Regions from separate parts of the Homo sapiens genome. Here regions 2, 3, 4, 5, 6 and 7 are each linked to region 1. The links come from fine-mapping of genetic effects on gene expression. A gene starts in region 1. Each other region holds a variant in brackets. All regions are shown on one strand. Distances are between the middles of the regions. Region 1 holds the start of KRT23 (keratin 23). Region 2 overlaps LOC124904002 (a long non-coding RNA gene). Region 3 holds the start of KRTAP9-6 (keratin associated protein 9-6). Region 4 overlaps KRTAP4-12 (keratin associated protein 4-12). Region 5 has its middle 6.5 kb from the start of KRT36. Region 6 has its middle 3.5 kb from the start of KRT40. Region 7 has its middle 8.7 kb from the start of KRTAP9-7.

Region 1 (4,069 bases):
GGGAGGTTAAATCATGGTCTTACAGGGAATTTTCTGGGACTGCTTTATATAAGAGGGGAGTTAGATAGCTTTAAAACATAACCTATGAGATGATTGGATTCCTTCTACTTCTAGCTAATGTTATGAGACATCCCAGAAGGTATTTGCTTAGCTTTTTTGAGGTTTGGTTAAAGAGTTCGGTTTTTTTTGAACAAGGTCTTTATAGCCATCTCAACTCTCAGATTCTAAAAATTATGCTCATTTTATTATTATTGGTTCTAGCAATATGCCATTGTCAGAACTGTGAGCAACTTTACTGCAAGCAACCCACAAACGGAAATATCTAGGGATGTCATGATGACCTATATGCTGGTGTGGTGACAACTTTTAGGCATAATCTTCAAAATAGTGTAACAGCCTTTTGTCGATGGATAACCACATTGTTCAAAAAAGTTTGAGGTGGAGCAGAACTGAGGTAATGAGAAAGTAAACACTCTCTTATGCCTGGTGCACTGAGCATGCAGCATGAACACCAGCCCTTATCATTTCTATGACATCGTTGGGTCATAAGTGACATTAAACAGCAGCTGGTTGCCTCACATTTTAAAGATGTTTTTGGTCTGTGAGAAATCAGTAGTCTCATTTTTGAAACAGTCTGTAGCACTTCTATCATTTTTGCTGCCTTCTTTTTCTACATTATCCATGGACAGTAGACTAATTAAACAAAACAGACGTTTCCCACTCCAAATTTAAGATATAATAAGAAAACATCCCCCAAAACCTTTGTGCACAATTACTTCAAGCGCTGATGCCATTTTCCTGGAAATTGTCTTCTGGACTCATTTTTCCTCCCGAGGGTCCCCTGGCAAAGCAGCCCCATCTGGATCTCCAGGGTCACCCAGCATCTTACCTGCTCCTGCAGGTGTGTGATGTTTTCCTCATACTGGGAATAATCTTTCTTACTGCCAGGATCTCTCTGCTGGTGCCATTTCAGGATGCGGCTTTCCAGCTTCATGTTGGCCTCCTCCAGGGCGCGAACCTTCTCCAGGTAGGAGGCCAGGCGGTCGTTGAGATTCTGCATGGTGGCCTTCCCATTTCCGCCTAGTAGGGGGCTGCTTCTTCCAGAACCCCAAGACCCTCCAGGGGGTGGGCAGCTCCGCGTGGTGAAGGACAGGGAGATGCGGGCTCCCCCCGCACCGCCATGGACGGTGGGAGCCCTGGGGAAGCTCCTGGGCCGGCCCCAGCCACCTCCGGCGCCATGGAAGGAGGCCGAGGGGGTCTGGCTGAAGCTGTGTCCGGAGTTCATGGTCCCATCTGTGTTTGGGACGGGGCTGAGCTCTGCTCCACTCCCTGGCACCGCAGAACTGAGCCGCCCCAGACTGCCCTGGATGGTTTTATGGCCTTTGCTGTGGGAGTTCCCTTCTCTGACAATTGTACCAACAAGATTGTATCATTGTGCAACTTGTGTTTCCTCTTGGTCAATCCCAAAGTGCCCCTGGGCCTTCGCACACTGTTGTTGTTTAGAGCCACATCAATATGACAGTTTGCTTCCTCCCTTCCCCTGGTAACCCGGAGGTGTGGCCCACGACATCAGGCGGGTATTGGGCTCAGGTATCTTTCTAATCTTGCCGTGAAGTTTTTCCATTGTTCATTTACCTGGAATGGGTTAGGTTAAAGTCCACCCAAAAGAAAGCATATTCGATGTAGTATAGATTTCCTTAAAAAAAACCAAAAACCAAAACCAAAACAAAACAACAACAACAGCAACAAAAAACCAGACATTAAACAACAGAGATACACACACCTTTTTCCACCCCCAATAAGCCCCACCTCTAAAGGGAGGGTGAGCGAGCCTGGAGAAGGGAAAGCCAGCTCAGAACAGGATCTCAGGTCCCAGAATAAAGCTTGCTGTGCTGAGGCAGCCGAGAAGGTGGTGAATATCTGATGCCTTTGTGGCAGTCACTGTTTGAAGGAAAGTACTTTCAAAGGACTCGCTCTTAAGAACAAACCCTCAATTATAGATGTAATTAATTAATGAATGACCGAACCTTCCACTTCCAGGGTGCCTTTCATCCCAGCACACCTCAAAACCAAACAACCCTGGCCTGCGCTCAGGATTTCCCTTGGCCCTGGGGGAGGAATGTAGCCGTTGTTAGCAGCCCCGGACCCCGGCTGAGCCTGCCACGGCTGGGCTCTGTGTGTCTGTGACCTGCAGAGGGACGATGGAAAACAGGAAACCTGCCATGGGCTGTCAAATGTGGTTGATGAATCTTATATTTCATCTGCCAAGGTAAAGGTTAGGAATGAATAAAGAAGCAGTCTGGGGGCGGGAGCCACGTGCTAGTTACTGGCAGTTGGATTTAAAGGGGACTTACAAATAAAATATCAGCGCAGGAAGGGCTTCTGGCCTTTCTGGTTCCAAGCCACTAATTGGACAGATGAGGAAAGCTGAGGCCTATGGTGGTGGGGAGGTTAGTGGCAGAGCCAGGGCTAGATTCTTTCTCCACATAGCACTGTTATCTTGGGTTGAATCTTGACAGGTCCTGTACCACACTTCTCTTTCATAATAATAGGACTTGCCAATTGGTGTAGCTCTTTTATATTCTTTATTGAATCCTCACAACTCTTTATGTATCCAGGCAAGGGTTGTTGTCTTCATTTTGCAGACAAAGAATCAGGGTCTCATAGGGATGAATGATCCAGAGCTGATTCGCATGTACAGTGTAATTGAGCACATGAATTCATAGGTGACACTGCCCGAGTCTGTGCTGTCCTCCCTGCCTGGAAAGTCACTCACCCCTACCTCTTCTATAGTTCAAGGGCTACCTCCTTCAACAATCATTTTCTGAATTCTCCTGCATGAGTTGGGTGACCCTCTAGGAGGAAACTGCCTCTTCTGGATGCCGAGGTCCTCCAGAGGGGCAGACACCTTGGCATCCCACCTCATGGTGGAAGCTGGGAGCCCCTAGCCAGGCGCAGCCACCTCCTGTGCCTGGGATGAAGTCCACTCCGTTCTTTCACTCCATTATACTGCATTTGCCACACCCTTCTGAGACCGCAGGCTTCTTGAAAGCAGAGTTTATGTCTTCCATTTTTGAGCACCAAAGTCTGGTTTCTTGGTGGTATTTTGCAAATGTATGTTGACTCAATCATAAACTTTTTAGAGTCAGGATTTTAACACAGGTCTCCTGATGCCATCAACTTCTGCTCCTTTTAGGACTGTGAGTTATAGAACTAGAAAGTAGGAAAACGCCTCTCCTGGGTATAGATTAACCATCCATGAAGGCCAATCTTTTCCAATTACAAATAAAGCCACCCAAAAGCACACCAGCTCTGCTCCTCCCAGTCTTACAACAAAACCTTATCAGGGAAGAGTCTCTGAATATTTTTTATTTCACTGTGCACGAGCTGGAAAAATGAGCCTCCAAGCCTCAGGGAAGCTTGGAGAGTGCTTAGAAAGAGTGCCGACAGTCACTTACATCTCAGATATGAGAAAAAGACAAAAGAGACAAGTGATAAAAATAGAGCAAATGAGGGAACTAGAGAGACTTGTTTGGCGAGTGGTGGCAACCAGTGTTCTGTGGATGTGGACGGTTCCTGGTCATCAAAGTTATGGTCAGCTCTGGTTCCTGTTCGCCTGGACCCAGACTTACCAAGGAAGAAAACATTTACCTTTAGCATGTGCAAGGGCCGGGCTGCACTGCCTTTTTCTAAATTCTCTCACCAGAATCTACAATGAAATTAATGCTTCTCTAATTATTTCAGGCATGTCTGAGTGGCAGTGACTTATCAACCCCATAGATTTGGCCACTGTCTCATTTTATGTCCATGTGTGGGAGTTTTGATTTATAGGACTTATCCTTGAGCAAAAGATTTCTTGTGTCATAGCAGGACCAGGGCCAGGAAAAACTGGTGGTGAGATCTGAGAGCACTGGGGAGAAATAGTCTCTTCTAGTACTGTTATATGATGGTTTCCCATAACTTCTTTTTTTTTTTTTCTCAAGATGGAGTTTTGCTCTGTCACCCAGGCTGGAGTGCAATGGCGCAATCTTGACTCACTGCAACCTCCGCCTCCTGGGTTCAAGCGATT
Region 2 (4,069 bases), 180 kb after region 1:
TGCCTACTATGTCTATATATTTATGTGATGTGTACACAATTTCTCGCTACTGAAAATATATAAAAGAGTTCTAATTAATTGGCTTAAGATAAAAAGCACTTGAATCTAATACTTTATCAGGAAAAAAGAAAAGACTAGTTGAATGCTTTCTGAAGTTTATGTAACAAGTAAAATCTTTAATAAATAAGCTAGCTTTAAAATTATTGGTAAAGTAATATTAGACATGTCTTAAAAATTGCCAGCATGCATTTTTGTTTGCATTTATTAATCAAGCAATTTCATGCTTATCCCTGTCAAATACCATAAGGTGTCAAAATTTGCCATGGAGTTACAAAACTGTAATAGAATGATCTTTGCTTGTATAATCTTTAATAAATAAGACATTGATATTGGTTTAATAAAAATAGTCACATCTTGAATTTAGTGAGATTACTGTAACTTCTAATTTTGTGGTTTTGGTGGTCTAGTCCACAGGCAGTAAGATTTAGTTTGAGAATGAACTGTTATAATCTTTGTTTCAAAGGTAAACTATAAACTATGTTCCTCTCAACGTCTGTTCAGCCTGTGCCCAGGATTGAACAAGAACAGTTTGGAGGTTAGAAGCAAGATGGAGTCAATTAGGTCAGATCTTTTTCACTGTCTCAGTTATAATTTTGCAATGGCAGTTCCATAACTTTAAATGATGACTATTGCAGTTTTCATAAATAATCTAGGTAAACAATTCCTTTTTAAAAAGGTGAACAATTGTCATCTAATTCAATGCTTATTTAAAGATTATGTATAAGACAAGTTAAAAGGAACCAGGAAATCAGAGAGATGTAAAGAAAGGTATAAAAATAAAGAGGATAAAGAGGGTTCTTTTTGGTAAGGAAGCTTAAAGAGAAATAATTTCATATGAGAAAAGATCTTGTATGGTAAATTTAGACCTAAAATAAAATGATTGTTTAAGAAAGATGGATGTTCAAAACAAACCAGAAAGTCCAAGCATATCATGAACAGTCTGTAAAAGTCATAATAAGAGGATTAAAAAAAAAACCAACAAACTTTTATATGGTCAAGTTGTCTGTAATTAAAAGGAAATTATAATAGTCTTCCTGAAGATTGGGCTTCATGTAAAAAAAAAAAAGCAATGATAAACAAAATAGTTAGAGCGATGAAATTTTCTTAAGGGATTGATTTACTCTTATTAAATTATAAGAGATTTTAATTTTTTTAACCCAAAGTTCAACTGTTTACTCGCTGTTTTCTCTCCCCTTCAACTCGTTTGCAGCTCATATAAGTTATTTTCCTTAAATTCTATTTGTTATGGTCTGATGCTAACAATGTTTTCTAAAAGTCTAAAGAAAATGTTTTCTTCCAAAGTAATATTCTGTGCAGTGTAGAAGGTCTTTTCTTTTGCCTTTGGGTAATTGACCTAACAGATTTTATGGCTTATTGAAACAATGCTATGCTGTTATTATTAATTTTTGATTTGCTCAGGAAAAAGTATCTGAGATAATTTTTTAAAATTAAGGTTATTACATCCATGTATATTTCTGTAGGTGCTTTGAAAGTACCTGTGACATTAAGTTACAGGCCTTTGACTCCTGGGTCTAAAAAGGACACCAAGGTCTGCTAAATCTTAAGCACTGACAGCAATTAAAACCTCATCTTCAGGCCTGGTAGAAGATGCCAATCAAAATAAACTGCATTCCTGAGACATAAGGCCAGAAGTAAAAGCTATTCAACTCCTCAAGGCTCAGGAACTACCACAGAAGAGGTAGGCATGTGAGATTGTAAGGGCTGATTTTGAGAGACAAAATAAGTTCAGTTTCTCTGCAAGTTAATAATTGATGTCAAAGGCACACTGATGCAATACCAGCATACGGGCCCCTGC[G/A]TCAGATTAAAAAGGTTTTCTTGAAGTGTTAACCGACCCCTTAATAAAGGTTATAAAGGTTAAAAAAGGCTTATGGAAGCTGTATCTTATGGTCAAGATTAAAATTTTAAAGATTGATAATAAAATTTCAAAAAACAAATTTAATTGGCTTTATGCTGTTTTATTTGGGCTTAATGTTTGAAAAATTGACTTATTTTATGATGACCTATCAAGTATTTTAAACTTTTGATATTTGGCAAAGTTTCCAGAATCAAATTACAAGTTGTGTATTTTTCTGACCTAATTAATCCTCTAAGATATTAGTTTCCCTAAAGTCCAAAAATGAAATAAATGACTTATTTGGTATAAAAATTATACAGGAAGCATTGTCAAATATAAAATGGTGTTTGGTTTTCTTTGGGCTGTATTTGTATAAAAATGTTATTGGTATGTGCACCAAAATTATGGGAAACTCCTATAATTCTGATATGACATGGTGTACAATATCACTAATAATTATAATTGTTATATAAAATTATCGTGTGCCACAGTGGTAACAAATTTTCTTGTCAATTGTGTCTTTGATTATGGCTGACCTAAAACTTTTTGTCACCCATGGACAATTGTTTTGTTTTAGTCCTTTTTAGAAGATGGTTTTATAATCAGCTATAAAACTCTAACACGTGTTCTTGAAGGCAAGTTTCTAATAACTTTGGAGACTGTGACATCAGAATGGAGGAAAAGCTTTCAGAACTCATGGAGACCTGAAATGTTCATGAATAGCAAGCAGAACAGGAATTAACTGCATGAACTGAACTAATAGAAGAGCAACGTAATCTTTTTGACTTTTTGCTTAAAATGTTGCTGCTCCTTGTTTTCCTTTTTTTAGTCAAGGAAACTTTTATTTGAGCTGTTGTCAGCTTTTAACAAGTTAGTATACTCCTGTGAAAAATATTTGGAGCATATTTGTTTCTCTCTACCTGATTTTCCCCAGAATTGGAAACTATCTGTGAGTATTCTTAACTTATGGCAATACAGTTATTTGCATAAGTGCAATAATAATCTGTTTTCATGTGTAACAAGACACAATTGGAGAAATTGGTCATTTTACCAAGGCTTTGACTGGAATGGTGTGCTCTCCTTTAAGGAATCAAATTTGACTTATGGAGCCAATAAAAGCCCCTTGGGAGAACTGGCCTCATACCTTATCTACACAGTCCCTGTACAGGGTTCCTGACCTGTGGTAAGTAAAGCATGTCACTTTCTAACAGTTCCAGGAGCCCCAAGTTTATCTTGGAACCTCAAGAGCAGAGGAATTCATGCAACTCATAGGTATTTGATGGTACAAATCCATGGCTAGGCTAAGCTTTCCAAAAGTCTTATCCGAAATTCCTTCTATGGAACAAAGTTCTGATAGGGACAGGGGGCTGAGAAATTCTAGGCAGAAAAGGGTAGGTCTCTGACAAAACCCCACCTTCAAGCTGAAAAGCCTTAAACCACGGCCCAAAGTGAGAACTTATATCCCTGTTTTCCTGCTTGAAAGTTGCCTTTTTCTAAACCACTCATGGCTCCATCCTGTCCATCCTATGCCTGTGAAGATGCCAGACTCAGCTGGCAGAGGCAAGAAGCAGCTGGACATTGGGAACTACAGCTGGACGTCAGAGAGAAGCAGCTTGATTCAGAGGGACAGCTTGATGGTGTAATCTTGGAGAAGAATCCAGCTGGATACAGCCTAACTTTGAGGAAGATTACCTACCCACCCCATCCTTTTTCAGCTCCGCTTTCTGCTAAGAGCCACTTTCATCAGCAACAAAATCCCCCACATTTACCATCCTTTGATTGGTTCATGTGACCTCACTTTTCCTGGACACAAGACAAGAGCTTGGGAGCCAGGAGAGCAGATACAAAAGACTGTCACACTGGCCCTCTGCCCTTGCTGGTGGAGGGCAGCTGCCTCACACAAAAAGGCAGAGGCCTCACTGAGCTGTTGACACTTAAGCCATCCATGGAAGGCAGAGTTAAAAGAACACTGTAACATGCCCTCTGGGGCTATGGGGGTCGCAGGCACCCCCACCTAGATGCTGCTGTGGGGCCCACACAGAGTTTGCTCCTGCCGGTGGCCAAAAGCACTCACTTTGGCTCCTGCACTGATTCACCTGCATGCTTCCTCCCACAAGCAGGGGACTGCAGCAGGTCCCAGTGAGTGAAGTTTGA
Region 3 (4,069 bases), 330 kb after region 1:
GAGTTGATCAACCAGAACACACAGACACAGGGAGGGGAACATCACACACCAGGGCCTGTTGGGGGGGTCGGGGGCAAGGGGAGGGAGAGCATTAGGACAAATACCTAATGCATGCAGGGCTTAAGACCTAGAGGACAGGTTGATAGGTGCAGCAAACAATCATGGCACATGTATACCTACTCAACAAACCTGCACATTCTGCACATGTGTCCTGGAACTTAAAGTAAAAGAAAAAAAGTTGATCTAGTTAATTATTATAAATATATTCTTATCATCAACATTAAAATTAGTTTAGGAATTTCTGGAGAGAAAAGAAATAATATGTTTTCAGTTGCCTATCATTTGATGGATATTGTGTAAATCTTTTATGTACATTATCATTAATTATTGAAAAAACTTTCAAAGTAGGCATTAGTGTTCTAATTGTAGAGATGAGGAAATTGAGGCTGAGAGATGTAATGTCATAGTTTGGTTTTTCCCAGAAGATACTCTGAGAAAAAGATTCCAATGAATACAGTGTATTAGGAAGGGCAGAACAGGCCAGAAGGGATTGTGGCAGTGATACAGAAAAGGGTATACTATTAAGCCAGTATCACAGAGATCAACTGAAGCTTAAGCTAAAGGGAAATTTTTCAGAAATGATGAAAAACACACAACTTTGAATTCTCAAACTTCAGCAGTGAAGAAGCTAGAGTCTGTATAAATCCACTCTTTAGAATTTTCAGTTGAATATTTTTCTCCCTGTAGTGTGCACAGGTGACATGACTTTCTGTAGTTGCAATACAAGAGCCCTAAGGCACAGAGATGCAGATTCAGGCAGATGGAAATTGGTATGAGCACCCTAAGTTCCATGATATACAGGTATGGTAATGAAGACCTGTCTACAGTAACATTTGCTCCATTCAAGTCCAATCTTTCCTTCTTAAATGTAATGGACAGCCATGAACTCTAGGAGAAAAAGGAGGAGGAGGAAGAGGAGGAACAGAAGGTGAGAGAGGAGGAAAAAACTAGGAAAGATATGGGAAGAAGACAATATACACAGACAGGAAGAAAGGAACGGAGGAAGAAAGAGAGCAAGAGACAGAAGGAAAGAGAGTGAAAAGGAAGGAAGGAATGAAGGAAGGAAGGAAGGAAGGAAGGGGAAGGAAGGAAGGAAAAGGAAAGAAAGAAAGAAAGGGGAGGGGAGGGGTGGGGAGGGGAGGGGAAAGGAAGGGAAGGGAAGGAAGGGAAGGGAAGGGAAGGGAGGGAAGGGAAAAGAAACTACTGCTGTAATAGGGTGCTTCTGAGATTCATAATCTCCATCAGTTTCCGCCAGTTCTATACTCCCTTCATCACTGGCCAGCACTCCTGTTAGTTTAGATAATTGCCTGATGAAGTAGCTCAGAACTTCCTGCCTGATGGGTCTTACCCTCTAGTTACTTACTACACCATTGTCCAACTGTGGTTGCTTTTGTTACTCATTTGTGTTTATCAATGGGCATGGATACACTACGAGATATTCCAAGGTTATGGGTCGAATTGTGTCCCCAAGAACTCATATTCAAATAGGGTCACTTAAATGCAAGATGGTAAGATAAGGTCATATTGGAATAAATTGTGCTTCTGATTCAATGTGACTGGTGTCTGTATAAACAGGGGAAATTCAAACAGGATGCATATAGAGGGAAGATGATGTAAGAGACACATGGAGAAGATAGACATCTACAGGTCAAGGAGAGAGACCTGAAACAGATATTTCCCTCACAGCCCTCAGATGAAAACAACATTGCCAACACCTTTATTTTAGCCTTCAGAACTGTGAGAAAATAAACTTCAGCCACTTGATTTGCCATAGTTTTTAATGGCAGTGTAATGCTTTAATATATATAGTAAATTTCTTGAGTTTCAGATATATTCTCCCTACGCTCTATGGCTTCACGAAAATTATCCCTCATGGAATATTAACTCCTTTATCTACCTGCTGGTCTGCTAACATGAAGGATCCAAAATGAAATGACCAGGTTATAATTGCTGCTTTTGATTATGCCAAAAACACAGTGAAGCAAATTCTATAATTTTTATTTACATAAAAGTCAAAGAAAAAAACAAAACTGACCTACAGGATTAAAACTTGATAGAGTGACTAGCTACCTTTGGAGATAAGTAAAAAGATATAATTTGGAGGGAATGGAATTAATTTCTATTTTGTAAACTGGTAATGGGGACTTAGATGTATTTATAATGTAATATTATATCAAGTTGGAATTCATAATTTGCACTCTTCTGAAATGAATGGTATAATTTAAAAAGTTTTAAACAATGGTAAACCTCAAAGAGGAATCAGATATCATCTCAACTCACCTAATTCCCTCACTGAAAACAGAGAGA[CAG/C]AGAGAGAGAGAGAGAGAGAGACAGAGACAGAGACAGAGACAGAGACAGAGACAGAGAAATGGCAATGATTGTGCCAGTAACCTGGATTAGGGCTAGAGCCACAGCTCATATTGCTTTGCCTGGACCTCAAGCAGTAATGTCACAGTAATTCCCAGTCCCACATTCTCATGCTGGTAAGCCCCTCAGTCCCAGACAAATCAGGGTGAATGGTCACCGCAGCACGTAGATTGCTTGATGCTTTGTGAATTCCAGTGAACCCCTCCTCTTTCTACGTGTTTGCTTTGGCTCTGCTCTGCCACATAGCACACATTGTGCTGAACACCCTCTTCCCAAGAGGCTTTTATAGAACTGGAAGAGACAGGTAAAGTAGGTTGTACATAGAGAGATGCCTATCAGTCTTGAATCAGACTTTGGTGGGTGAACAGTCTTGGTCCCAAGCATGGATTCAATTCACCACTGTGAATATATCAACATCATGCTTCTCCCCACAGACACTTCCCAGTCTACATACAGCCAAAGGATGAGACTGGGCAGAGAGAACTTCCTGAGCCTCCCCAGTCACCAGGAACTATCACATGACGAGATGCTGGTCAGAGCAGGAACGAAGCTGATGATGAGACTGCCTTCCTTTTATCTGAAACAAAGTTTCTACGAGTAATTTACAATTAAGAAACAGATTAAACCCTTACTTTCCAAAGATTCATAACATTTAGGAAATGACTTCCTCTTTGACAATGCCAAACTGACTATGGAAAACAACTGTAAACAGCAAGAAAGAAAAATCCTGCTGATTGGTGGAAACTTTGGAGGCCACATGTATAAAAGGTCCAGATTGCAAGGGGTCATCAAATCCTGGGAAACTCACCTCTGAACAGAAGCCCACCCTCCACCCCTGACAACATGACCCACTGTTGCTCCCCTGGCTGTCAGCCTACCTGCTGCAGGACCACTTGCTGCAGGACTACCTGCTGGCAGCCCACCATTGTGACCACCTGCAGCAGCACACCCTGCTGCCAGCCCTCCTGCTGTGTGTCCAGCTGCTGCCAGCCTTACTGCCACCCAACTTGCTGTCAAAACACCTGCTGCAGGACCACCTGCTGCCAGCCCACCTGTGTGACCAGCTGCTGCCAGCCTTCCTGCTGCAGCACACCCTGCTACCAGCCCATCTGCTGTGGGTCCAGCTGCTGTGGCCAAACCAGCTGTGGGTCCAGCTGTGGCCAGAGCAGCTCCTGTGCACCTGTGTACTGCAGAAGAACCTGCTACCACCCCACGACTGTCTGCCTGCCTGGTTGCCTCAACCAGAGCTGTGGATCCAGCTGCTGCCAGCCCTGCTACTGCCCAGCCTGCTGTGTGTCCAGCTGCTGCCAGCATTCTTGTTGCTGAGCAGCACCACAGAGGACCATCATCCTCACACAACAACCTTCTGCTCAACTGACCTTTTTTTTCTTTTGAGACGGAGCCTCACTGTCACCCAGGCTGGAGTGCAGTAGCACGCTCTCGGCTCGCTGCAACCTCCATCTTCTGGGTTCAAGTGATTCTCCTGCCTCAGCCTCCTGAGTAGCTGGGATTACATGCCTGTGCCACCACGCCTGGCTAATTTTTTGTATTTTTAGTATTTTTAGTAGTTTTCACCATGTTGATCAGACTTGTCTGGAACTCCTGCCCTCAGGTGATCCACCTGCCTCAGCCTCCCAAAGTG
Region 4 (4,069 bases), 180 kb after region 1:
TCCAAGGTTAAAGAGAAAGTAAGCCTAATATGTCTTAGTGTAGCCAAGAAAGCCGTAAAGAATACAATTTGCTAAGCTTGCTGAAACTGCTTCATCTTCTTGGAATGTTTCATCTTTTTTTGTCCACTCTGCAAACTCCTACTCATGTGTCAAGACCCAGTTAAAATATTTCCTCCTCAATAATATCTTTCCTGCTAAGCTACCCCATTCATGTATCATGATTTCCTGCCTTGTGCTCATAATTTATACATTCTCCTGTATCATAGTCATTTACTTCTGTCTTTCCACCACGTGCAATGCAAATACCCTGAAGGCTTGCGCTATGGCATTTATTCTCGTTACCATGATACTCAGCACAGAGAACACTGGTGGTAAATGTTTGTTGAGTGAATGAAGGTTTTTTTGATGACATAGAGGCATGTAAGGTCCTTTAAAAAATGTATATATCTTTTGACTTCTGGATAAAAGGGAGGAAAACATCCCAAACAAAGAAATCATAATTTCATTTCAGGAAGACTAAACTCATTTGTGTGATAGGTAACATGTCACCCGATAAATAACATACGTGGAAACTGCGGAAGTCAAGATTCAATTTATAGAATGAGACTTGTTTATAGATAACCAAGAATACAGTGTTGAACGTGCATGCCTATATTCACACAGTAAAAAGACAGGAAGGAAGTAAACGCCAGATGGTAGCACTGGTTCTCCTTCACCTCCTGACTTCCTCGTTTTACTCTTGTTGATTGAAATAACTATTATTTCCTGTTTCGTATCAGTCAGCCAAAAATGTTTGCTGATAATCTGTTGTCTTAGCTTAAATTCTACCCAATGCAAACCTTGAGAAAAAGACCTGAGTGCACATAATTTATTTGGGGGATGATCCCAGGAAGCACAAGTGAGGAAACGGTGAAAGTAAGACAGGAAAGGTAGAAAATCCCAACAGTGTTTGTGTTAATGGTAAGGCCCCCACTGTGGGCAGCTGGGGACGAACCCCAGGGACAAGCCTGAGGCTGGAGGCACTTGGCCACCATGATTGCACACCTGTAAAATCCTGTAGAGTCAGCTGGGTATTAGTGTGAATCGCGAGATCAGATAAAATATGAACTTATACTAATCCATAGACTTTTTATACACTAGCAATAATTCTCTCTAAAATTTAATGGAGAAAAATCACACACTGGGGCCTGTCGTGGGGTGGGGGGAGGGAGGAGGGATAGCATTAGGAGAAATACCTAATGTAAATGACGAGTTAATGGGTGCAGCACACCAACATGGCACATGTATACATATGTAACAAACCTGCACGTTGTGCACATGTACCCTAGAACTTAAAGTATAATAAAAAAAAAAAGAAGCATGTACTCACAGTTCTCAAGAGTAAATAGAAAAATATGTAAATAAATCTGCCAAGCCTTTGTGAAGGAAAATGTTAACATTTCCGGAAGGACATAAAATAATGTTTGAATAAATGTCAGAACAAGAGATGTGCAACGAAAGCCAAGTTTTCAAATAAATACATACATGTTTTATGCATGCATTTAATGAGGATGTATCTCAATTTGCAACATTAGGTATTGAATGGGATTGGCAAAGATCATGATGGGAAACTTACTTTTGTTCACATTGTCACATTCTTTTGTATTGTCTAAATGTTTAAAGAGCATATATTTGTGTATAAATGATCTAAACATCCTTAGAAAATAATAAATGTGATTTATATAAAATTCATAATTTTTCTACATATTCTGTTAAATATATTTTCTGCTATTATGTTTACATTCTTATTTCTTTCAGGAACTAAAATATTAAAAGTACATTTCAGTCAGTCATTTGAGCTCTCAAATTAGCTATCATGAATTTCAAATTGTTTTGGGGGACAGGCTGGGTTCCCCAGGAAGCAGTCACTGAGATGGAGAGCAATATGCAGGAGGTTTATTGAAGCATGCTCTTGGGATTAACACTGGGGAGGGCAGGGGAGGGGAAAGGGAGGGGAGGGGAAAGGGAAAGGGAAGGGGAAGGGGAGGGAAAGGGAAGGGAAGGGAAGGGAAGGGAAGGGAAGGGAAGGGAAGGGAAGGGAAGGGAAGGGAAAGGAAGGGAAAGTGAGAGAAAGATCAAGTTTGACACTGGGATAAATCAAACTGCAGGGCAATCTCCGTGGAAGTCTCAGATGAACCTATAGGGAGTTCTGGAGATGAGATGACCCATTAGAGGCATCCCTAGTTGGGGAGAAATGTGGGTCTTTATAGTTTCATCCTAAAAAAAGGGC[A/T]TGACTTTGGACGAAAAGAAAAAAAATCAGTCTCCAGCATACCTGTGAGTTTTCACTAGGCCTGCTTCCTTCATTTCCATCACCTGCCTGGCCGTGAAGGTGGCCCTCTCTACATGGCAGCATGAACTCCCCATTGAAACTCTGCCAGTCAGAATGAAGGAGATCCACTGTGTTTGTGTTGAGGATTCATTACACATGACTCAGTAGAAAATACATGGACTTTGCTAAACCACCTAATAGCTGCTTTTACTGGAAAAAAAAAGAAATTGAAATACAGTGTTTTAAAAGATCACAGCTCTGTGCACAATAGTAAAGACATGGAATCAGTCTAGGTGCCCATCAACAGTGCATTGGATAAAGAACATGTGACATTTTCACACCATGGAATACTACACAGCCATAAAAAAGAATGAAATTTTGTCCTTTGCAGCAACATGGATGTGGCTGGAGGACATTATCTTAAGCAAATTTTTCCAGGAACAGAAAACCAAATATTGCATGTTGTCACTTACAAATGGGAGCTAAACATTGGATACACATGGACACAAAGATGAGAACAATTGGGGACTCCAAAAAGGGGGGAGAGAGGGAGAGAGGAAGGGCTAAAAATGACCCACTGCTCAGTACCTGGTGACAGAATCATTTGTAGCCCAAACCTCAGCATCACACAACATGTAACAAATACGAATATGTACTCTTTGATTCTAAAATAAAAGTTGAAATTATTTTTTAAAAGATGATGAGTTGTGATCAATCTTTCAAAACGTTTCCCCTGTTGTTATATTCATGGATATTTCATGACTTCAGCTTCACTCTTTTTGTCTAAAGAATACAAAATGACTAATTGATTTGCCTAAGCCTGAAAAGACTTTTCTAGAAAAAAACTAGGCAGTGATCGATGTCAGTTGACCTCTGTTAGAAGGTTGACTAATCTGTGCTGTGAGCCCTACAGGTGTAGTTAAATGTAATCACCCAGGACCTAAATATAAAACCCTTTTTAAAAAGAGAATAAGAATCATATTCAATTTTCAGTGCCAATAGAATAGAGGTTTATTTTGGTACATGGAAATAACAAGGTACAAAAATGTTTGCAAAAGACTTTAAGAGAGAGACTTCACTGGACTTCAAGGTTGGAGGCTTTAAGATCTGTGGCCCTACAAATGATGGAGGCAATCTTCAAATTCCTTAGGCATGATGAATAAATGTCCTGAAGTCAAAGAGGTGGGAGGATGTTGGAGGACAATTTGTCAATTTATTAGGAGATTGTCAATGAATTCCTTTGGAAGGAAGGGAGTTTGGACAAAAGGTAGAATGCAAATACAGAATTTCTAAGGATGAGGTTTGCTTATGGGACCCAGATCAATTCTCTTGAACAGTCCGCATGTTTGCAATGAGAGCCTTCATCTGTAGGAAAGGACGTAATAAGGAAGTGGTGTGTTCACAGCAGAGATTTAGCAGCAAGAGGAGGCACAGCACAAGGGGCGGGGGCAGGTGGAGATGACACAGGTTGGGCGATAGCAAGTGGTGTGGCAGGAGACTCGGCCACAGACTGGACGCAGGCAGCAGCAGGGGCGGCAGCAGCTGGATTCACAGCAAGAGGGGCAGCAGCTGCTGGAGATGCAGCAGCTGGGGCGGCAGCAGGTGGGCTGGCAGCACACAGACTGGCAGCACTGGGGTCTGCAGCAGCTGGACACACAGCAGCTGGGGCGGCAGCAAGTGGTCCTGCAGCAGGTGGTCTGACAGCAGCTGGGGCGGCAGCAGGTGGGCTGGCAGCACACAGACTGGCAGCACTGGGGTCTG
Region 5 (4,069 bases), 560 kb after region 1:
TTGTTGTTGTTGTTGTTGTTTGTTTACCTGCAATTCTGATCTGAGTGTCCTGTGTCTGAAACCCTCAGTAAGGAAACATCACTGGTTGAGAGCCTTGGCCACACAAATGCAGCTCTTTCTTCCCTCCTTCCCTGATGGCCTGTCACCATGGCTGGCTGTTCTCAGGGTCAGACACAGAGGGCTTCCCTTGGAGAATCGTGCCTTCCTGTCCTCTCACACCCTGCTGTCAGTGGCTGTCATTCTTGCCCTCCCAAGTCCAAACAGTACTTGGAGATGCAGAAGCTGAATTATCCTGCCTCCCATCCTGGCCACCTCAGTGACATTCCATCCTGATGGCAGCTGCCTTCAACAGGGTGACTCAGACCTTCCTGGACAAGATTTAGCAAGTCTCTCTCTGCTCCATTTCCCACCCCCCAGCTTGTGCCCCAAATGTCCACCTGCCCCCTGCTATCACCCGGCCTCACCAGGTTCAAGACAATCTGAACATGACTCAGTGGTGAAGGAGGTCCCCCCCACTGCCTGGCTGCCCCTCCACAGTGTTGGTCCTGGTCCTGAGCAGTGACTCCTCCTGAGACTCTGGGGCCCTACAAGGAGCATAGGTCCAGCTTCCCAACCTGCTGTTCCTGGCCTGTTCCTGAGCCCCCATCAGGCCTTGACCTTCATCGGGCCTTCAAAGTCCCACTTGACCAGGCCCGGAGTTACTCTAGAAATCTCATCTCCCCCAAAATACAAAAGTATTTTCTCTCCCCCTGGGGTGTGGTTTTTGCACTTGCCCAGGACTTCAAGGTTCTGCTCCAAGCTGCTTTTGCCGTGGCAGATGCCCAGAGAGCCACCCTAACTCCAGCCTTAAGCCATACCTCTCTGGTCCTCTTGTGGCCAAGCTCGGCCTTCCACATCTCAGGGCCCACCACCTTCTCCCCTGGGGCCAGCGCTCCCTGCACAGCTGCACTGGCTGCCAGCTCCCATCTGGAAGAGTCCACAGTCTCCTGCTCAGACTCACCGAGTCCCTAACTCCCCCACCCCACTTTTATGGTTGGAGCATTTCAGAGCGTCCTTTCTCTCCTTGGTGTGCTTGAAGAAGCTGTGATTGTGGGAGATGCACAGCCAGGCCCACTGGGAGAAAAGAGCTGGTACCTCAGTGTCTAGCGTCCCCTTGATTCAAGTATCACTTAGCTGAACCATAAAGCGAATTTTCCAAACACCCTGTTTGATTGGACTTGTAGTCTGCATTTACAGGGGCCGGCATGCAATTGATTTGACTCTCTTCCTACGAACAACAGCGTGTCTGCAAACCAGACTGCGGGCTCCGGGCTGTAATTAACCATGCCTGACACTGTGGATTTTACTTTCAAACTGGTCTGAGATCCTTGGATGAAAGAAGCCACAGTCATTATGACTGTTCATAAAAAGGGATACCAGCTCTTGGCCAAGTCCCCCAAATACCCACCCCCAACAGGTGCCTGTGCAAGTCTCAGCAGCACCCGCCACCTGCTTATTTTCTTTCAAACTCTGCAGGAGGATGGAGGGTGTAAAGAGTGCCCAGCTCTTTTGAAGCCCCCAGAGGAGCTGCTCAAAGGGACACAACCCACATATTCTGCTCTGCTCCAGCCACCAACAGTCCCAGGGACACCATCCAAAAGAGGCCAGTTCCCTGGGCCGCCCCTCAGATGCCCTGACCCAGGCAGGGAGGAAGGAAGGGCCCCCACAGCTGGATAAGAAAAGCTGGAAGTGGCCAGGCGCAGTGGCTCACATCTGTAATCCCAGCACTCTGAGAGGCGGAGGCAGGTGGATCACCTGAGGTCAGGAGTTAGAGACCAACCTGGCCAACATGGTGAAACCCTGTCTCTACTAAAAATACAAAAATTAGCTGAGTGTGGTTGTGCATGTCTGTAATTCCAGCTACTTGGGAGGCTGAGGCAGAAGAATTGCTTGAACCCAGGAGGCAGAGGTTGCAGTGAGCAGAGATCATGCCCCTGCACTCCAGCCTGGGTGACAGAGCAAGACTCTTTCTCAAAAAAAAAAAGAAAAAAAATCTGGAAGAGTCCATCACACCCATCGCCCTGCACCTCCTGCTGTGACTTTGCTTCCTAATCTTCCCCAGAGCTTCCCTTGGCTGGGACAGTGAGAGTCCCCTGCCAGGAAGGCCCAGACACCCCATCTCATACTCAGGATCTTCTATGGATCCTCAAAGCTATCACCCAACACAGAGGGGGAGCAGGCGCCAAGGGGGTCTCAGGCCTGGAATGTGCCTGCAGCCACACCCTGCCTGTCAAGGGTCTTCTGTGGATCCTCAAAACTATCACCCAACACAGAGGGGAACAGGCGCCAAGGGGGTCTCAGGCCTGGAATGTGCCTGCAGCCACACCCTGCTTGTTAAGGGCCCAGCTGGGGACCGGACGGGGCCCTATGTTGAGACCAGGCCCGGCCAGGACTGGGTCTAGGGCCCAGCCACTCCACCCTGTATCCCAGCAGGTGGCCAT[T/C]GAGGCACTGATCTGCTTTCTGGGGTGAGCCTGCCCCCTGCAGGGCCTGGGCAGGACAGCCATCGCATTGAGGAGGGCAGCAGCCTGGCTCATTCCCCAGGGTGGAGCCAGGAAGAGAGGGAGGTGCCTATTGCTTGGGGTGAGGAGGAAGTGGCTGAAGCACCAGGAGTCACAGAACAGCGCCACGTCTCTCCACCTCTGTGTGCCACCCGCTGCCCTCCTCCCTCCAGAACCCGACCTGGCTCTGAGGTGCCAAGACACCCCAGGAACATCACAGGCTTGATTCCTTCATCCCCTAGGCTTTGGGGTCTGGGAGAGAGCCTCACTTCTCCCCCAGATTCCTGGAGCCGAATGCTTGACCCTTGGCAAAGGACCAGCCCCAGTCTTGGAAAGCACATTGGAACCACAGGTCCCAGCTCTCCCGCTGGGCAGGTCTTTGACCCCGTCCAGACCTCAGTCTTTCCATGTGTAAAATGGGCACAGCTGTGCCAATTCATGGGATTGCTGTAAAGATGAAATGAAAGAAAGGATGAGAGTAAAGGATGCGCTACTGTGTCCCCCTTTCCGTTATCTCTTTCATTCCGGCATCTCTTGTGCTGACATGGCCTCATTCACAATCATTGGCATGGACATTAGCCAGGTGCCAATGGAAAGGGGCTGTTTCCTCATAGCCACAGCACTGGGAATCAGCGGTGTGAGACTGGCATGGGCGTGGCACCTAGGTCAACCCTGGGAAGGGGAGCATTGACCCAGCAGGCCTGATAAATCTGCCCTCACTTGAATGGCCGCCCCACACCTGATAAAGAGTTGAGTCCCAGAGAGAATGAGGCGGATTCCCCACCCACTGCCTCTCCTACCCTTCTGACCAGAGAGCCGGGATGACCACCTGCTACTCCCAACTCAAGAAGGCTCCTGGGGTAGCTTTGGCAGAAACACCTGCTCTCGGCCTGCCCTCTGAGCTTCCCCGGGATTCCTGATGGGGCCACATAGGTCCTCAGATGGGGCCCAGCTTCTCAGTGTCCTTGCTGGGGTCTGGGTGAAAGGCTCCCAGGCCAGAGTCCCCACTGGGCCTAGAGTGCAGCTCATTTCACTGCTCCTGTGGGCAACTACCCTCACCCCCCACCAAGTTTTGCAAAACTAGCTCAGAGAATGAGGGGGCTGCCCCTAAACAGCCATGCCCGGGGTCTCAGGAAGAGGGGCTGCTCTGGGCCCCATAAGCCCTGGGATCTGGACCCCAGGGTGCCTTGGAGCAGCCAGGGTAGCTCAGCATTGAGACCCCAGGCCCCTCTCTCAGTCTAGGGTAGGGGCTCCTGTGCTCTCTGTACAATACTTACTTACCACTTTCATTTCCCATAGCTTGTATCTATTTATTCCCTCATTTCTCCATTCAACACATTTATTGAGCCCTTATAACGTTCTAGGTATGAGGATGAGACTGACGATGAAACCAGCCCTACCCAGAAGGAACGCATAGCTTAGAAAAGAGAACGAGAAAGATCATGACCAGAGGTATCTTGTTTACTGAGCACTTACTATGCACCAGTGACTGTTCTGAGCACTTGACTTTAATTAACCTATGAGGAAGGAAG
Region 6 (4,069 bases), 50 kb after region 1:
GCAACAAATATGAGTTCAAGGATTCAAAAACACTTCTGAAAAATTACAAATCTCTGAAAGAAAATTATCTTTTCACAGTAACCTAATGAGTCAAAAGAAAAATATCTGTGAAGAAAACCCATGTTTTGGTTGTCCATCACAGGCTCCAGTTAGCTAAAATGCAGTCATGTAAGTGCAGGTAAAATAAGAAATATTTCCTTCTGTCTGGAACTAATTTCTAATTGTAAATTATTTGTTACTGGTTATTGTCCTGCAGGTAGGACTATTTATTTTGGTCTTGATTAATTAGGTAGTGTTGTATAATGATCTATAGCTATAGTCTCCATCGTAGAATATAGAAATCACCCAGAATTCATTTCTGTGGAGTCCTCCTTAGGGAAAAGAAGTCAGGCTGGCAGGACCAGAGGAAAGCAAGTTAGTGGGTGCAGCGCACCAGTATGGCACATGTATACATATATAACTAACCTGCACAATGTGATAAATAAATAAAAAAAACCAAAAAACAAAAAACAAAGAAAGAAAGCAGGTAATGTATAAGACTCACCTTCTTCATGGTCCAGGACACATAGCCCTCCTGCACAATATTCCTGCACCCAGCTATCACCAGACCTTCAGCTGATAGAAAAATGTAACTTAGCTCACTGCAACCTTAGTGTTATCAGTACCACACAAACCCTCTTCAGCACACAGTACAAGCACCATCCTGTAAAATCTCCAGCACGCCTTTGTCTCCTTGCAGACAGCCCCTTCTCTGCTGTGCTGCCCATTGCTTCCTTGCAACGTATTTTCATACGTTCTCTAATATATCTGCCTTTCTTTACCTACAACTATCTTGATAAATTCTTCTTACCCCCATGCCACCAGCCCCAGATAGTTGCTAATCACCCGTGACAATTTCTATAGCATATCATCACCAGAAGAAAGGAACATTGGGAATAGAGAAAAAGAAATAGACATCATGAAAGGCCATGATAAAAAAAAAAACCGACAACAACACGGTAGTTTATTTTGCATAATACTATGCTCTTACCTTACAACATCCACCTAGGCTGCCAGAATCATTTTCCTAAAATACAAACCTGCTTTTTGTCGCCTTCCACTTATGGAATGCAAACTTTCTACCTTGGCAAATATGACCTTCCCTAACCTGGTGCCAATTTACCTTTCTGGGCTCACTTCCTGATGTTCTGTCTCACAAACCCTAAGCTCCAGCCATCCTTCAAGCTTCGTAGGTACTATTTTCTTGGTCAAATGCTCTTCTGCTATTCGTTTCCTGGATGAACTCACATGTCAAGACTCAGCTGAAACGTCGTTCAACTGCCTCATGTGGAGATGTGGCTCCTCCCAGAGCACTTTGCACGCATCTCTGCTATAGCAGTTGTCTTGTTGCTTTTAACATTTGTGCGACAGGTTATAAGAGTTTACATGAGGCCTTAAGAAATTTGGCTCAGGGCCAGAGCTAGTATCCACGTGCAGCAACTTGGTTGATTTTCACTGTTTTGGGCAACAACCTAAATAACTTTTAACAGTGCCTGGGAATGTTCAAGGGTCAGCTCGGGTTCAAGCTGCAGGGGAAACACACAGCTGGCTGGGCCACAGGGTGGTCAAGGTAATCTGTTTCCCAAGGCAAAGAAGGAAGTGGAGGGATGATCTGGGTGACCCTACAACATGATCAATCATATTGAATAACTTGGTCACTCTACATTATCCTTTATGTAAATTGTTTTATTCAGTTAGTTGATAGGATTAGCAAATGGATTTCCACCCCCATCTATGTTCTTGAGAAATATTTCCTGTAAATTTCTTTTCTTCTAATGATCTTGTTAGGTTTTGGTATCAAGTTACATACTGGGTTCACAATATGACTTAGCTCTGCGTCCCCACCCAAACTTCATCTCAAATTATAAACCCCAAATCCCCACGTGTTAGGGGAGGGACCTGGATGATTGGATCATGGGGGCAGTTTCCCGTATACTGTTCTTGTGATAGTGAGTTCGTTCTCAGGAAATCTAATGGTTTTGTAAGTGTGTGACAGTTCCTCCTTCCCACGCTCTCTCTCACCTGCCCCCA[T/A]GTAAGAAGTGCCTGCTTCCCCTTCCACCATTATTGTAAGTTTCCTGAGGCCTCCCCAGCCATGTGGAACTGGGACTCAATTACACCTCCTTCCTTTATAAATTATCCAGTCTCAGATATTTCTTTATAACAGTGTGAGAATGGAGTAATACTGTTCATAAATTAAATTGGGAAATGTTTCCTCTTTATTTCATGAAATTCTGTAAGATTAGTGTTATTTATTCCTTAAATGTTTGATGGAGTCCAGTGAGGCCACCTCTTCCAGGAGTCTCCCATGTGAAAAAGTTGTGTTTTGTTTTTAACTAGGAAAAAAAATGTCTGGGCGCGGTGGCTCAAGCCTGTAATCCCAGCACTTTGGGAGGCCCAGGCAGGCAGATCACTTAAGGGCAGGAGGTTGAGACCAGCCTGGCTAATATGCTGAAGGCTTGTCTCTACTAAAAATACAAAAATTAGTTGGGCATAGTGGCGAACACCTGTAGTCCTAGCTTTTCGGGAGGCTGAGGCATGAGAATTGCTGAAACCTGGAAGGCAGATGTTGCGGTGAGCCGAGATCACACCATTGCACTCCAGCTTGGGTGAGAGTGAGACTCCATTTCAAACACACACACACACACACACACACACACACACACACACACACACATGCACACACACACGCAAATATATGTATATTTGCTGACCTCTACATCAAATTGCTTACCTCTACTTATAGAAACCTCACAATGCTATTCAGTTGTTCTATTTCATTTTGTGTGAAAGTTGCATTTTTCAAGGAGTTTGTTCACTTCACCTAAGTTGCAAAAATACTGAAATAAAGTTGTTCATAATAATCCTTATCATGAATTTTAGTATCTGCAGTGTCTATAAATTCTCACTATTTAATTCCAGATATTGGTAATTTGTGTTTTATCTCATGCTTCCCCCATCAATCTGGCTTGATGTTCATCAGATTAATACTAATGTATTGTTTATTTCAAGGTTGCTGAAAGAGTAGATTTTTGATGTTCTCACCATAAAACAATGATCAGGTGCTTAGGTGATGGATATGTTACTTAGCTTGATTTATCTTTCCACAATGCATACATAAATCAAAACACCACATTGTACCCCACAAATATACATATACACAATTATTATTTGCCAACTAAAAAATAACTAAATAGAAGTACTTTATGAATCCTTTCAAAGAATCAAATTTTAGCTTCATTAATTTCCTCGTTTTCTATTCATTGATTTCTGATATTATGTTTATTATTTATTTCTTTCTCCTTACTTTGAATTTTAATTGTTCTTTTTCTATTTAGTTGAAATGAAAACTTAAGTGATTGATGAAGAGATAAATGAAGGTGATAAAGATGTAAATCTTATTTTCTAATATAATCATTTGCTGTATATTTTCTACTAATCCAATGCTGTATGTATCCCATAAATTTTTAAAATCTTTTGTTTTCATTATCATTCAGCTCATAATATTTCTTAAGCTGTATTGGTATTTATTATTTGATCCATAGGTTATTAGAACTGTGTTGTTTGATTTTCAAATATTTGGTGATTTTTCTAAGTATCTGATTGATTTCTCATTTAATTCCATTGTGGTCAGATAACATATTTTGTTAGATTTTGGAATTTATGGAGACAAATTTAATGGCCCAGAATATAGTCTATTTTGGTGAGAGTTCCTTATGCATTTGAAAAGAATGTATATTCTGCAATTGTAGGGGGTAACATTCTGTAAATGTAACTGAGTAAAATTGTTTGATACTATTATTCAAATCTTCTTTCTCCTTGGTAATTTTCTTATCTGTTTGTTCTCTCAGATCCTGACAGGGGATATTAAAATCACCAAATGTGATTTTGGATTCATCTATTTCTCTCTTGACTTCTGTGATTTTTTGCCTTATTTATTTTGAAGCTCTGTTATTGGGTCATATTTTTAAGGATTATAGGACCACCTGATGAATTTTCCCTTTTTCATTATGAAATATCACCTTAAAATTAT
Region 7 (4,069 bases), 350 kb after region 1:
TGTGAGGCAAAGTTGAAGCAGAGGAGATTCAACATCAGAGTATTAGAAAAAGAAAACATAAGGATTTGAGAAAGAAAATAAAGGAAACTGGTCACTCTTAAAAAGTATACTGGATATAATGACAATAGACGTTATTGTAGTCCCCCAAAGTGGGAGCTAGACTTTCCGAAGAGCTGAACACCAAAGAGGATACCAAGATATTTCTTGAAAAAAAAGAACAGATACTGGCTCCAGGGGAAAAATAATATTCTGTGGCCTGAGCTATCACATAGTAGTTAGGTCTTAGGAAATCTAAGAAGGTGGAGGGATTTTCCAAAGAGGCTTCCATGTTGTCTGACTTGCTAAGTGCTTGCTCTCCTGATGCATTCAAGGATGAGCTGAGGCACTACCATTTACTGAGTAACTACAGGTATTAGTCTAGGTTTTTCTAATTCATAATCCACCAATGTTTTATTTTCCTCATTTCACAGATGAAGAAACAGAGGCTAAGGGAGATGAAGGAACTTGTTCAAAGTTGTACAGTTAACAGTTGACCTGGCTTCAAACACTAAGCTGTCTACACTACACTCACTGTGTGTGCTATGCTCCCTGCCCCTACCAGTCTAGAGACATAACCGGGTCTATGGAGTCTTGAATATGACAGCAAATTACTTGGTACCCTCACACAGTCTCATTTCCTTATTCTACCAATAGTTGGGACTTCGGGAGAGTGAATAAGAATAAAGACTTACATCTGGATATTAAAACAATCCTTTATTTAAATAAGATTTATTGAGCACTTACTGTGTGTTAAGTACTGTGCCAGGTGCTGTGATTACAGAAGTGAACGAGACATTCAACATCCTCACCTTTATTGTGCTTCGGGAAGAATACAAACAAGAGACAAAATTTATACAGTAGAAGTGAGGAAGGTGAGCCTATATTATTAATGATATAGGAAGGGTGGTTCATGACGACTGTATCTAACAGAATTGTATCTTAGCAACGAATCAGAGAGGGAAGGAAATAAAAAACTTCCATTTTGAACCCATGAATCAATTTACCAAGTAGAACAACAGGGGTGATACTGAAAGAACTCAGGTACAAAAATTCCCCAAAAATGTAAATGCAGAAACAATAAAACATGGTTGGAATATATTAAGTACTTCCCCCAAAGCCTGCAGCTTGTAGGTAGCAGAACAGGCATGATGCAAATACTCATCTATGTGATTTCGATCCTCATGGCCCAGACTTTCCTGCCTTCTTCCACAGTGGAAAACCTGTGCATGAACAAAGAAGGGAAGATGAACCCATGAGCTCTCTTTGTGTGGACATACTGCAGTCTTCCTGGCCAAACACAGGAAATTGATGATACATTGCAAAGGCAGATCACAAAACCAGCACACATGGGAGGAGAAGGGATGAAGGAACATCCAACAATCTAGCTATTTTGTGGGGACCTCAGAATCACTAAAATTGAGCAGAAGGTTCTTAGGCAACCAGGTAAACCACCTTGATCTAGATTTTAACAATGAGAAGGACTTGGTAAGCAAAGGTTAGTGATGATAAACTTGCTGCAAAAGGACCATGTAAAAATTTGTGATAGCAAGGCAAGGAAATGCTTGTTTGGCTGGAACTGCATTCTACAGAGCAGGAAGATAATTGGCTATTTACAGGAACATGAATGTGATTTTCCAGCAAAGGGCACTGGAATAGAGGATGGAGCTAAGGGTAGGGAAGCGCTCAGAAAAGCCATTCTGATTGCTTAGTCACAGATGCTTCTAATGAGGAAAAAGTTCAGGGGGTCTAGAGTGAGTACAGAAATTCTCTAAAAGCTCTTTAAAAGATCTTCCTAGGAATGGAACAGACCACCCCGGGTGTATGAATTTCCATTTACTAGACACTTAAGCATTGGATCTGGCAACACATGGCAGGAAGTTTATTAGGATTCCTTCCATGCCTGAGATTCTTTGAGATCCTTAAACACTCTGTCTTGCCCCATCATTATTTGATTAATTAATTGCTAACAGGTTGTTATTCTCTGAACTCCGTAAGCATTCACATACATAATGCTTTAAAGAAAGCATACACACTGTCATGATAATTGGCATTCCCTTGGAGATAAAAAAAAAAAAAAAATAAGGACTATCTCCCCAATGGCATGCAAGGTAGAATTCACAACCCTTGATAAATGTACCTGGTTCTGGCCTTTAGCCTTGCAGACTCAGAGACCTGATTTTGCTTACATTCTAAGGGTTAAGCCACGTCTTAGAGCAGACACCTGTTAGCCAAGCCCAAAAAGCAAGGATGCCTATTTATTAAATTACAGGAGAATTAAGTAACAGGAACTTCTAAAACACCACATGAGTAAGGAATCAGACAG[G/A]AAGTTATATAAACTAAATGTTGAATGGCATTTGACATGTTCGTTTCACAATAGTTCTCACCAATGGAAATTGAAAATTCATAGTCCCTCTCCTGTGGGCAGTTGCCTGGAGGCACACTGCCAACATTCACCCCAGCACTTGTCTTAACCCTGATTTTCCATGGTTCAACAATACTCTAATTTAACTTTCACATTTTTACATCTTCAATTAGACTTGAATCAATTCCTCAGACTTTGAATGCATACATCTTTTTAAGGTGACGCTACATAATTTGGTTTTGATCGTTTTGAACATAGGTTCCAAGTCTTGGATGATATCTGACTGTACCAATGCATTCTCATTCACACCATTGCATGGTGAGCATCCATGATGAAATTTATATTTGGTTTAGTTCATGTCTACCATCATATCTGTTGACTATTTGTAATATTTCTATTGCATGTCAGGATAACTTGGGCTTTGTTTATCTTTCTTATCTCACTAAGTCTTTAAAAAAAGATTACTGTGTGATACAGAGTTGTCATCATAGTGATAATGTAGAATTATCATCAGAGTGTTGGGTTGACTCTTATGATTTTGTGTGTGTCTTTGTTCATCTAATTATAATCTAACATCACCAACCTGTTATGAGTGACACACCACATACTTCTTCCTTCCTCCCTGCTGTGAGTTATAGTGGTGATTGGACTATAATTAATTTATTCTTCTTAGAATTTGAATTACACATAAAAGACAATCCCTAGGTTAGGCCCTCTAGTGCAATGTAATATTGTTATGGAAAGAACAGGGATTAATTTCAGAAAAACCAGCCTGTGTTTCCTACATTCAAAATAGGGAAAACTCGGCTCTTTCATCACTGGACACCTTCTCCTTGGAACCTCTTCTGACAGATGGTTCAGATAACACAGCTTGGGATTTTTCTTGTGAATATGCAGGAAACAAGAATGAATGTTATATTCTAAGATCAAACGCTGGGATAAATTTAATTAAATTGTAGGTTTGGAGATAACTAATGCAGAAAATATAGGATTAAAAATCAGAAATAAAATTAAAATGATTCCCACTTAAATAAACAAATATAGACATTATTCTAGAATATAAATCAAGAAAGCCTAAATTGGATAGATTGTATAAACTCGCTAAGGAAAGCATGCAAGCCTTATCCATCCTTTATTATCACTGCGTTCCACAGTGGCTGTGGCCTGTCCCAGACCAGAAAACCTTCAGATCCTCTTTCTAAACAAAAGCATTCCTTATGCAAGATAAGGACAAGGTAAAAACCAAGCTCTTCAGCCCCAGTCAGATTCCTGCTTGGAACAAAGATTAAGATGGAAAGGGTCAAATTTCAATAATCTTCTGCCCTTTAAGGTTGATTCCTAGCAAAATCAACCCAGTTTTTTCCAAGCATTCCCCTTTAAGTGCCCAATAGTAATAAATATAGCAAAGCATAAGTATACTTAATATATAAAACAAACCACTCACTAAGACCAACATTAAGTCCACTATGAAAGAACTGTACCTACACAAATAGGTGATGATAAGAATATAAGGGATTTCATTTAAGATCTACTGGTAAAATTATGATTAAGACATAAGAAAGGAGGACTTCTTAATATTACTTATATATTCAAAGAATAATATTTGAACAGAATTGTGTAGAAGGACAGCTGGAAAGGGGAATAGTGGCCCCAAATGGATGTAAACAG

The links. PIP is the estimated chance that this variant, and not a neighbour inherited with it, causes the effect.
Region 2: its variant is fine-mapped to the expression of KRT23 in whole blood (TOPMed, PIP 0.99).
Region 3: its variant is fine-mapped to the expression of KRT23 in whole blood (INTERVAL, PIP above 0.99).
Region 4: its variant is fine-mapped to the expression of KRT23 in whole blood (TOPMed, PIP above 0.99).
Region 5: its variant is fine-mapped to the expression of KRT23 in whole blood (TOPMed, PIP above 0.99).
Region 6: its variant is fine-mapped to the expression of KRT23 in whole blood (TOPMed, PIP above 0.99).
Region 7: its variant is fine-mapped to the expression of KRT23 in whole blood (INTERVAL, PIP above 0.99).

What each region holds. Positions count from the first base shown.
Region 1 is chr17:40,935,319-40,939,387 of GRCh38, forward strand. KRT23 (keratin 23) reads right to left here and starts at 2,328. Exons shown (of 9, transcript NM_015515.5): 1 at 2,028-2,328; 2 at 890-1,635. The coding sequence starts at 1,285. All of the region lies in intron 1 of LOC107985072 (a long non-coding RNA gene), which reads left to right.
Region 2 is chr17:41,110,656-41,114,724 of GRCh38, forward strand. It overlaps LOC124904002 (a long non-coding RNA gene), which reads left to right. Exons shown (of 2, transcript XR_007065754.1): 2 at 1-2,015. Among named protein-coding and RNA genes, the nearest start is that of KRTAP4-11, 5.7 kb to the right of the region's middle. The variant G/A (reference allele first, on the strand shown) is at 1,877.
Region 3 is chr17:41,262,108-41,266,176 of GRCh38, forward strand. KRTAP9-6 (keratin associated protein 9-6) reads left to right here and starts at 3,271. Exons shown (of 1, transcript NM_001277331.1): 1 at 3,271-3,753. The coding sequence starts at 3,271. The coding sequence ends at 3,753. The variant CAG/C (reference allele first, on the strand shown) is at 2,368.
Region 4 is chr17:41,119,797-41,123,865 of GRCh38, forward strand. It overlaps KRTAP4-12 (keratin associated protein 4-12), which reads right to left. Exons shown (of 1, transcript NM_031854.3): 1 at 3,295-4,069. The coding sequence ends at 3,721. Among named protein-coding and RNA genes, the nearest start is that of KRTAP4-12, 2.4 kb to the right of the region's middle. RefSeq lists an enhancer at 3,513-4,066. The variant A/T (reference allele first, on the strand shown) is at 2,270.
Region 5 is chr17:41,494,390-41,498,458 of GRCh38, forward strand. No RefSeq gene overlaps it. Among named protein-coding and RNA genes, the nearest start is that of KRT36, 6.5 kb to the left of the region's middle. The variant T/C (reference allele first, on the strand shown) is at 2,481.
Region 6 is chr17:40,985,760-40,989,828 of GRCh38, forward strand. It overlaps a transcript of KRT40 not described here. Among named protein-coding and RNA genes, the nearest start is that of KRT40, 3.5 kb to the left of the region's middle. The variant T/A (reference allele first, on the strand shown) is at 2,071.
Region 7 is chr17:41,282,369-41,286,437 of GRCh38, forward strand. No RefSeq gene overlaps it. Among named protein-coding and RNA genes, the nearest start is that of KRTAP9-7, 8.7 kb to the left of the region's middle. The variant G/A (reference allele first, on the strand shown) is at 2,363.